Linked DNA regions of Homo sapiens: region 2 is linked to region 1. Evidence: fine-mapped expression QTL. A gene starts in region 1. The other region holds a variant in brackets. All regions are shown on one strand. Distances are from middle to middle. Region 1 holds the start of RPS12 (ribosomal protein S12). Region 2 has its middle 30 kb from the start of SNORA33.

Evidence for each region. PIP is the estimated chance that this variant, and not a neighbour inherited with it, causes the effect.
Region 2: its variant is the best candidate, but not a certain one, in a credible set for the expression of RPS12 in whole blood (INTERVAL, PIP 0.71).

Annotation. Positions count from the first base shown.
Region 1 is chr6:132,811,842-132,816,841 of GRCh38, reverse strand. It overlaps RPS12 (ribosomal protein S12), which reads right to left and starts at 2,273. Exons shown (of 6, transcript NM_001016.4): 1 at 2,229-2,273; 2 at 2,060-2,110; 3 at 1,754-1,870; 4 at 279-381. The coding sequence starts at 2,073. It overlaps SNORD101 (small nucleolar RNA, C/D box 101), which reads right to left and starts at 1,535; the gene lies at 1,463-1,535. SNORD100 (small nucleolar RNA, C/D box 100) reads right to left here and starts at 40; the gene lies at 1-40. It overlaps LOC107986644 (a long non-coding RNA gene), which reads left to right and starts at 2,554. Exons shown (of 3, transcript XR_001744345.3): 1 at 2,554-3,549. RefSeq lists enhancers at 1,808-1,937, 2,368-2,647, 2,562-3,308, 3,738-3,807.
Region 2 is chr6:132,844,408-132,849,937 of GRCh38, reverse strand. No RefSeq gene overlaps it. Among named protein-coding and RNA genes, the nearest start is that of SNORA33, 30 kb to the right of the region's middle. The variant AC/C (reference allele first, on the strand shown) is at 3,210.

The sequences.
Region 1 (5,000 bases):
GGCAGTTCAGTAGAGGGAGCCAGTTGTCATCATGTACAGCACTAAGATCACCTACAAGCCTGCTACTAATCTTTGTTGTATACCAACGTCAAAATTAGGATTCAATTCTGCAGGTATAAAATGCTTCTACCTACAATCATCTTTAAAATGGCCGACAGTATCAGGTGCACGTAATGTTTACACCTGCACAAAATGAACAGCTTGAGACTTCACAGAATTTACCCCCATATACAAGCATCACTGAACATTAGTCCCAACACAATCCTTAGCAGCCTTACCTTAATTAGGTTGATTTGGTGTTCAGCACAAAGGGCCTCCACCAACTTGACATACATAGGCTCATCACAGTTGGATGCAAGCACACAAAGATGGGCTTGGCGCCTGAAATTCAAATTACAATGAAAATGGAGCTAAAACTCAGATCCAAATCCATCATTCTTGCATTTTAGGAGGGTTATCTTTGCACTAACACTTGCGAAACATAAGCAGCCAATCCACTGAACACATAAATGCGTACAAAATTGCTTGAGTCTGAAGAACCTGCTAGGGAGCATATACATCTTCAATTAACCTACAACTGGTCTTCAGTAAAACCTCTGTCCCTGACACACTGAATTGGTGTAAGTCATTTTTAAAACTTCTGGCCAAAACCCAACCATAATAGCTTTCTTGTAAGCCAGCTTCATATACCTAAAGAAACATGTGAAAGGCCGGGCACGATGGCTCACTCCTGTAATCCCAGCACTTTGGGAAGACGAGGGGGGCAGATGACCCGAGGTCAGGAGTACCAGACCAGCCAGAGACCAACATGGCGAAACCCCGTTTCTACTGAAAGTACAAAAACTAGCTGGGCATGGTGGCGTGTGCCTGTAATTCCATCTACTCGGGAGGCAGAAGAATCGCTTGAACCTGGTAGGTAGAGGTTGCAATGAGATCGCGCCACTGCACTCCAGCCTGGGGGACAGAGCAAGACTCTTTGTCTCAAAAAAAAAAAAGAAAAAAGAAAAAAAAAAGACTGTGGCATTAATGGAACAGTTATGAAATGCCATGCAATAATGCCGAAATAGAAATACAGAAGACTCATACTAGGACCTACTAAATACATTAAACAATAATGCCGTTTCCATCGGATTGAACTGGCTAGATTACACCAAAACGAACTTGTCCTGTAAAACCTTAAAACTGCATTTAAATTCAGCTCAAGAGTAGGTTGATTTGTCAATGCCACCACCCTAAAAAACACATTAACTCGATCCATTCAAATACATTAACAAATATCCCAAATTCAAATAAATCACAGCTATTATACTACTAAATTCATCTAGGACCAAATGCTTCTGAAACCTGAGTTTGAAATTCCATTAAATTAATGCTTGTTTTGCAAACTACCAGATGTAATGTGGCTCTCCATCTCATCTATCTGCCAGATAAGTATAAGACTGACTAGCTCCACAACCTACAGGTTTGTCAGACTCTTATGTTTCACTCATAAAAGGAGTGAAGGGGTATCCGACAATTAAAGTCATCATTCAAACACTGTAGTTTTGAGTGCTTATCCCCATTCCAAACAGCAACCCACACATTTTAAGTGGGCTTTATAGATCTGAGTTCTGATACCTTTTCCTAGGTTTCCGGTAGGACGGATGCCATTCAGAACTTTTGCGCTAACACCATGAACTCCATGCCTTCTTCCCTTGGGTGGCAGTTTTGTTCCGGTTGCAAGAACCCACAGTATTGAGACTGATACACGTACTTGTCTAAGGCTTTGGCAGCTTCGCGAATTCCACGTGCTAGGCCATCGTGGATGAGGGCAGTCTTCAGAACCTCTTGTAAAGCAGTATTAACGTCCATTACACCTCCAGCAGCAATGCTTAAACGCGACACATCAGAACCATCAGTTAAAATCCTCACACCACATAAGGCCTTGCACTCAGCAAAAGCTAAGTGTACAACAGACGCGCTTACGGCGACCCGTTTGACCCAGTCCTGTTCCGCCAGCTCTAGCCCCACGCCTCAGCCGCACCCCGACCCCAACTCCAACCCCGGCCCCTGGGCTCACCCTTCCTCGGCCATGGCGGTGGGTTACGGGTGAAGTTGAATCTTGAACGCACTAAAAAACAAAAGCATTGACTTGTTAAAGAACCAGATACTCGTCACGAATCCCAGCAAGAACGCAACGAGCCACAAATTATAACCAATACACCCCCCTGCCGCCTCGCTCAACTTACCCCAAGCCTCCGCCTCCGCGCGACTCGGCGGCGGCAGGGAAAGAGGCCTCATCCGCACGCATGCCGGTATTTAAGGGTTTTTCAGGTCCCCTGTGCGCATGTGCACTCCCACCCTCGAAAGAGGTGGCTCCCGCAGTGCCGGGCCTGGGGAGTTTCTGTTTCCGGATTGAGGCGGTTCTGAGGCAAACGTACTGCGAGTTTTCTATCTCTGCCAGGCCGGTCCTTGGCGAGTGCAACAGGCACTACGCGGGCAGCTTCGCGTTGTCCTTCTTTGCGGAGGCGTGGCCCACCGAGGCCCAGGGAACTCATTCTACGGAGCGCGACAGAAGCCAAACAAGTGTGTCCGCGTGTTCTTTAAGGCACCTAGAGCCCTGTATCCCGCCGAGCGCCAGTTTTAACCCTTTCCACACCACGTTCTACTTTCCTGTTGCTTCTACAAGACCCAGCCTCCCCAGGCAGCGCACTTTGTTCCTTCGCTTCTAAGTCACCCTGAGAGACCATGTTTGTGTCGTTGTGGGTGTGATCCTCATCTTTGTCTTCATGAAACGAGAGCCTACATGCTTTCACTCTTCCAGGCTGGAGTGCAATGGCGCGATCTCAGCTTACTGCGACCTCCGGCTCCCGGTTTCAAGCGATTCTCCTGCCTCAGCCTCCCGAGTAGCCGGGATTGCAGGCGCCTGCCACCACCCTGGCTAATTTTTTGTATTTTTAGTAAAGACGGGATTTCACCATGTTGGCCAGGCTGGTCTCGAACTCCTGACCTCAGGGGATCCACCCGCCTCGGCCTCCCAAAATGCTGGGATTAGAGGCGTGACCCGCCGCCCCCGGCCGCTTTCACTATTTCTAAGCCCTTTCCCTGCGGTGTGTTGGTAAAGCGGAACCCTGCAGCCAGGGGTCAATTCTAGTTTCTAAGTATAGCGGGAGTCGCTTCTGAACGAAGTTTGTTCTGCTTTGTTTGGTTTTTAACGACGCGTTGTGCTCGGAATACACAGTTCCGCGCAACTCAGAATTCCTCAGGTGCATTTTCAACACCTACAATGTGCCTGACGCAGGGCCAGGTCCTGGGACTACAGACATGAAATATCCAGTCTTTGAGGAGTCCATTTTCTTCCAGGAAGCAATATTTTAAATTTGGAAGTGATTGGCCATTCCCCAATCCCCACTTCCAAACCAAACGCACGAAACACTACTGAATATGATCAATACTGCCTTTGTGTTTAATTTCCTCTCCTGGGTAGTCAGCCGCCAAACCAGTGAGCAATTATTAGGCGCTTGGCACGTGCCAGCGCTGTGAATCCAGTGGGCAGATACTGTTAGACTGGTGAGTGCAGCGAAAAAAACAAAAATGGGTAACGCAGTAAGAGCACCAGGGAGTTCACCAGAACAGAGACCTGCTGTAATGTTAATAAACTGATAGAGTTCAGTTTACTGATAGAGTTCAGTTTTAGATTTTCCGCTGGTTTCAGTTTCATTTTTAAAGCGTTGAAGCTGCTTCTCTGTCAGTAACTCATGCAAATGTTTATTGAGCTTTTGATTTAAAAAAAAAAAAAAAACGAGGAATTTATAAAGATGATTCATTCCTGTAGCCCTGGTTTGTTTGTGGTGGGATTAAGATTTTAGACAAAAATCAGAATACCTCAGGGCCACAGAGGAGATACAAAGTGGCAGGGGGTTAGGGAGTGGGGATGGTGTGAAAAGGTAAGAGGACCTCAGGCTTCTGGCAGCATTCGAAACAGGCTCAAAACAAAAACTAAGAGATTCCAAATCGGTGAGCATGGAAGGAGAGGAGGGTATTCTAAATGGATGAAAGTGTAGGGGCAAAGGCATGAAATCCTTCTTGCCTTTTTTGGAGGTTATAATTAACACGTTTGTATTTTTGAAAGAGAATGTGGCAAATAGTCTTTCAGCGCATTTCTCATTATCTAAAGACAGTACAGTTGATATGCTAAGCATATTAGATTCCTTCCCCAAACAAATTTTTAAGGAAGAAGCAGGGAATTTGGGAAACCTAAGTGAAAACATTCACTGCCAAACAGCATATTTATGTGGGGGGAAAATGATCAAGTGCCTTGTTAGCTAAGGCAGTTGTTCCCAGTACCAACCAGCTCAGACTTGGTTTCTATCTTTCAGCAGCTGCTAATCTGTTCTATTGACTCAGACATCGTGGATCTCTGCTTTAATGTTTCACTGCACTAAAATGTCTTTTCACACAAACCTCCCTCCTTAGAGGGAGCTACATTTTTTTTTAAGTCCTACTTATATAACCTACTTATATAACTTATATAACCTACTTATATAAGTCCTACTTATATAACCAGTTCTAACCCCCAAAATGAAGTCAGGGGGCACACTGGTGATACAGGGGTTCTTTAATATAGATTCTCCTAGTTCACTTTTTTTTTTTTTTTTTTTTTTTGAGATGGAGTTTTGTTCTTGTAGCCAAGGCAGTGTCGGGATCTTGGCTCACTGCAACCTCCACCTCCCAGGTTCAAGCGATTCTCCTGCCTCAGTCCCAAGTAGCTGGAATTACAGGTGCCCACCACTATGCCCAGCTAAGTTTTGTATTTTTAGTAGAAATGGGAGTTTCACCATGTTGGCCAGGCTAGTCTGGAACACCTGACCTTGGTTGATCCGCCCACCTTGGACTCCCGAAGTGCTGGGATTACAGGTGTGAGCCACTGCGCCCAGCCTCCTAGTTCACATTTTTAAGGTTACCTCCTCTCAATTTCAGAGACTGGTAAAGGTGGAAGACAATACTACATAGAGGATAGT
Region 2 (5,530 bases), 33 kb before region 1:
TGTAATCCTAAGTTTTCCAGTTATTTTGAACCATTCCTGTGTGTAATTGTATCACATCAACCTACCAACTGACTAGTAAATAGACTGGTTTCTGCATATCACTTATACAATCAAACGTGAATCTGTAGGACAAGATGTAAAAAGCTAAGGTCCAGAGTAGCTCACGTGAGGTGCCACAAAAGTGCCAAAGGCTGTTAACAGCATAAAACAATAAACAAGGAAATATATAATAGGATTGCAAAAATAACAGCATGGTTCCAGATATAGGAAACTTTTAGTGTCACTATGTTCTGTATTGGTCATAGCCCTCCTAGGTTGCTGTGGCTGCAACTGGGTATTATATTTTCAAATGGACAAAACAAAATGAGACAGTGTCCAATGGAGGGCAATTGGTTTAGAAGACAGGAACTATGAAGAAAAGCTCCAAAAACATTTGTCACAAAATCATTTCTGTGACAACTTGGGAAAGAAAAAGCGAGGGTCAAATATAACAGTATATGTTAAAGGTTGAAGGAGTAGTCTAGTCTCTACAGCTTCAGAAAACACAAGCACATAGTTTTGCTAATACTATGTTTTACTCATTATAGAGCAAAAATGGAGTCGTAGAAAGAAATGGAGACAGCCAATTATTACCTTGAGCATCAAGCAGGGACTGTGTGATCATGTGCTAAGGGGGATGACAAAAAGATTCACGGCTGGGCGCGGTGGCTCACACCTGTAATCCCAGCACTTTGGGAGGCCGAGGTGGGTGGGACATTTGAAGTCAAGAAATCGAGACCAGCCTGGCCAACATGGTGAAACTCCATCTCTACTAAAAATACAAAAATTGGCCAGGTGTGGTGGTGGGCACCTGTAATCCCAGCTACTCAGGAAGCTGAAGCAGGAGACTCACTTGAACCCGGGAGGCAGAGGTTGCAGTGAGCCGAGAACGCACTGCACTCCAGCCTGGGTGACAGAGCAAGACTCCATCTCAAAATAAATAAATAAATAAAAGATTATTTTCCCCCCAAACTATGATTTCATAGCTATCAATGCATAATTCTTTGCCAAACATAACTTTTCATTTAAAACTTTTAGAGATCAAATAGGCAGAAATCACTTAAAAGTTTTAATTTAGCTCATGACAAAGATGCATAGCCATCCTTTAATATTCACTAAGTTTACCCTGGGCTTATGACAGTTTAGTGCACAGTAAATATTGTTATAAATTATACACTCAAGATAAAATAATAAGAAAAGGCAGAAGAGTCAGACACCACTTATAATACTAAACATGCTAATAATAGCTTAGTAATAATATTTCCTAGCAGGTGAAGACTATTACATGCAGTGTAACATGAGAAAAATGTTAAACGTAAATAGTGGCACCAGAATTTAAAGTTGGCAGAGCTGATGCTATCACTAACATTTCATAGAAGATTTCCATATGCCATTTTTGCATAATAAAAAGGCCATAAATATGCTTTGGTTGGGCCACACACACATGCACGTGCATACACACAGGGATAACTCAGACTCCCTTGCTCCCTAGACTCTCTTCTCCATGTCACTAATTAATCCATTTAGTCATCAATTATCTAAACATATATTTATATCCCCATTATAAGAGGATACAGTTCCCTCTTTTTAAATCCATTTCCTTGAATTCTACATACTTTACAAGCATTCACATCTTACTATATCAGGCTATAATTTTAGTAAAATCTTCTATTGTATTTAAGGAATTACTTGGTGGGAACTGATTAGAAGACTTTAACTTAAGTTCCTCTTGAAGGATTTTTTTTTTTTGCCAAAGTCCTTCTATTTTCTACAAATGATTATATTTCTTCATGCCCACATGTTAGTGATTGCTCCTAGAGTTGGATGCATGCTGGGTAGACCCATAACAATCATTCATGCTTAGGATCTATGTAGCATTTTCCATTTTTATCTATCCCCTTACCTTGATTAATTTTTCTTCCTAGCACTTTGCACTCCCTGACATTTTATAACAGGTCCACATCTCATATCAAAAACCCTTAGGACCAGTTGTGTTTCAGAATTCAATTTTTAAAAAAATTTTATAAAGGCTTTATGGCATACTCTCATCAGGGTCCATGGCAGCTCTCCATGATCAAACATTAATACTTCTTCAATGCATGGACATTCCTAGTAAGAGAGATAATTAAAGACTACAAATAACTTCACCTTTTTTCAGGTCAAGTTTTGCTGCCAGATGAGTTCAAGTCAGGTCAGATTTTGCTGCCAAATGAGTTAGGAAATACCTTTTAGTTTGAAGAGCTTTTTGAATTTCAGAATCACAGGTAACAGATTGTGGACCATAAATATTTACTCTATTTTCTGTTCATCCCTCCAACTAGGATTTAAGAGCAATGGATACCTGAATATTTTGTTTAACTTCTTCACTGTGTCTCCAAAGTCTAGAATATGAAAGACATGATCTCAATAAATAGCTGTGAATGAATGAATGAATGAATAAATGAATGAGAGGATCTGATATCAGAGTTCTGCCTAATAAGGGATCTCCCTTACTTTGGCATATTTTATGCCAGATCTTCTCTCTTTGGGAACTTGAATAGTAATACACAGAGTGGGATGCAGACTATGGACTGACGCTAAAACTAAAAAGCAAGATAAAACAAAACAACCTATGGACAGAAAAAGCATTATGCAAAAGCAATGAGGCAGTAAAAGATATAAGTAAGCAGAAACCATGAGGTATAAGCAGAGAAGAGGTCATTAGTCAGAGACAGGGTTCTCAAATATTAATATACAGAATTACCAAGACAGATTGTTAAAACTCTGATTGCTGAACCCCACTCCCTAAGTTTTTAAGACTGAGGGTGCTGTTTTGGTTACCGTAGCCTTGTAGTATAGTTTGAAGTCAGGTAGCGTGATGCCTCCAGCTTTGTTTTTTTGGCTAAGGATTGACTTGGCAATGAGGGCTCTTTTTAACCTAGGCAATACCATTCAGGACATAGGCGTGGGCAAGGACTTCATGTCTAAAACACCAAAAGCAATGGCAACAAAGGCCAAAACTGACAAATGGGATCTAATTAAACTAAAGAGCTTCTGCACAGCAAAAGAAACTACCATCAGAGTGAACAGGCAACCTACAGAATGGGAGAAAATTTTTGCAATCTACTCATCTGACAAAGGGCTAATATCCAGAATCTACAATGAACTCCAACAAATTTACAAGAAAAAAA[AC/C]AAACAACGCCATCAAAAAGTGGGCGAAGGATATGAACAGACTCTTCTCAAAAGAAGACATTTATGCAGCCAGCAGACACATGAAAAAATGCTCATCATCACTGGCCATCAGAGAAATGCAAATCAAAACCACAATGAGATACCATCTCACACCAGTTAGAATGGCGATCATTTAAAAGTCGGGAAATAACAGGTGCTGGAGAGGATGTGAAGAAATAGGAACACTTTTACACTGTTGGTGGGACTGTAAACTAGTTCAACTCTTGTGGGAGTCAGTGTGGTGATTCCTCAGGGATCTAGAACTAGAAATATCATTTGACCCAGCCATCCCATTACTGGGTATATACCCAAAGGATTATAAATCATGCTGCTATAAAGACACATGCACACATATGTTTATTGAAGCACTATTCACAATAGCAAAGACTTGGAACCAACCCAAATGTCCAACAATGATAGACTGGATTAAGAAAATGTGACACATATACACCATGGAATACTATGCAGCCATAAAAAATGATGAGTTCATGCCCTTTGTAGGGACATGGATGAAGCTGGAAACCACCATTCTCAGCAAACTATCGCAAGGACAAAAAACCAAACACCGCCTGTTCTCACTCATATGTGGGAACTGAACAATAAGAACACATGGACACAGGAAGGGAGCATCACACACCAGGGCCTATTGTGGGGTGGGAGGAGGAGGGAGGGATAGCATTAGAAGATATACCTAATGTTAAATGACGAGTTAATGGGTGCAGCACACCAACATGGCACATGTATACATATGTAACTAACCTGCATGTTGTGCACGTGTAACCTAAAACTTAAAGTATAAAAAAAAAGAAAAGACTGAGGGTGCTTGAGAATTTACCTTTCTAAGGTGAAGCTGATTGTATTAGTATATTAGGGTTTTCCAGAGAAACAGAACCAATAGGATATGTGTGTGTGTGCGTGTGTGTGTGTGTGTGCATGCACGCGTGTGTGTACATATGTAGTGAAAGAGAGAGAAAATCCCAAGATCTGCAGTCTGAAGGCCTGAGGACCAGGAGAGCCAATAGTAAGTTTTAGTCTGAGTCCAAAGGCAAAAGACTGATGTCCCAGATTGGTTTTTGTTTGTTTGTTTGTTTGTTTTTGCTTTTTGTTTTTTTGTCATTGTTTTTAGATGGAGTCTCTCTCTGTCACCCAGCCTGGAGTGCAGTGGTACGACCTTGGCTCACTGCAACCTCCTCCTTCTGGTTTCAAGCAATTCTCCTGCCTCAGCCTCCTGAGTAGCTGAGACTACAGGTGTGCACCACCATGCCCAGCTAATTTTTGTATTTTTGGTAGAGACAGGGTTTCACCATGTTGGCTAGGCTGGTCTTGAACTCCTGACCTTAGGTGATCCACCTGCCTTGGCCTCCTAAAGTGCTGGGATTACAGGCATGAGCCATAGCACTGGGCCTGATGTCCCAGATGTAAGGACTGTCAGGCAGAGACCGTGAATTCTCCCTTACCTGACTTTTTATTCTATTCATGCCTCTAACAGACTGGATGAGGCCCACTCACACTGGGGTGGCAGTCTGCCTTAGTGAGTCTACTGATTAAAATTTCATCTAGAAACACCCTCAGAGACATACCCATTATAATATTTAACCAAATATCTGGGCATCCCATGAGTCATTCAACTTGACACATAAAATTACACTGATGCTGCTGATGTGGAGACCACAGTTTGAGAACTGCTGGCACACTTCATAAGCAATATTTATTTTACAAGGCACATGTGAGCAATTATTTAAATTCCAGTGCCCTTCAAAAATAATTTGAGTCTGCTCATCTGTAAAAGCATGTCAGTGTTCCTATACACTCTTGATATTCAATTTGATTTCCAATCCTAAAATGTATTTTCTTCTAGAGAAAAACGATAAGAGATCTCTTCTCATTGCAAAGCTGATTGTAACTATGAAGCAAACTTTTTTGAAATTAAGTGAAACTCGTGTTTAGTATTGTCTCAGAGACATCAAAGAACAGGTCTCCACAGAAAAGAAATTTCAGTATTCCTGATTCCTCTGGATTTACTTGTGGCAGCTGCTTATTTTCTGGCAGCCAAAAGTCTTGAATTTCAAGTAACACAGAATAAACAATATAAGTCCATCTGAGCTTAAGGATCTAACAAAGTTGCTCACTGTCGTGGCACGAAATCTTTATGCACCAAAAACTTCATAGACTAATTTTGATTGCTCTTAGCAGTGTAAAAGAGGAGCTACACAGCTTGATTTTTTAAACACTCAGATCAAAATTATCGTTATAAAAATATTTTGAATGTGTAAGATTTAAA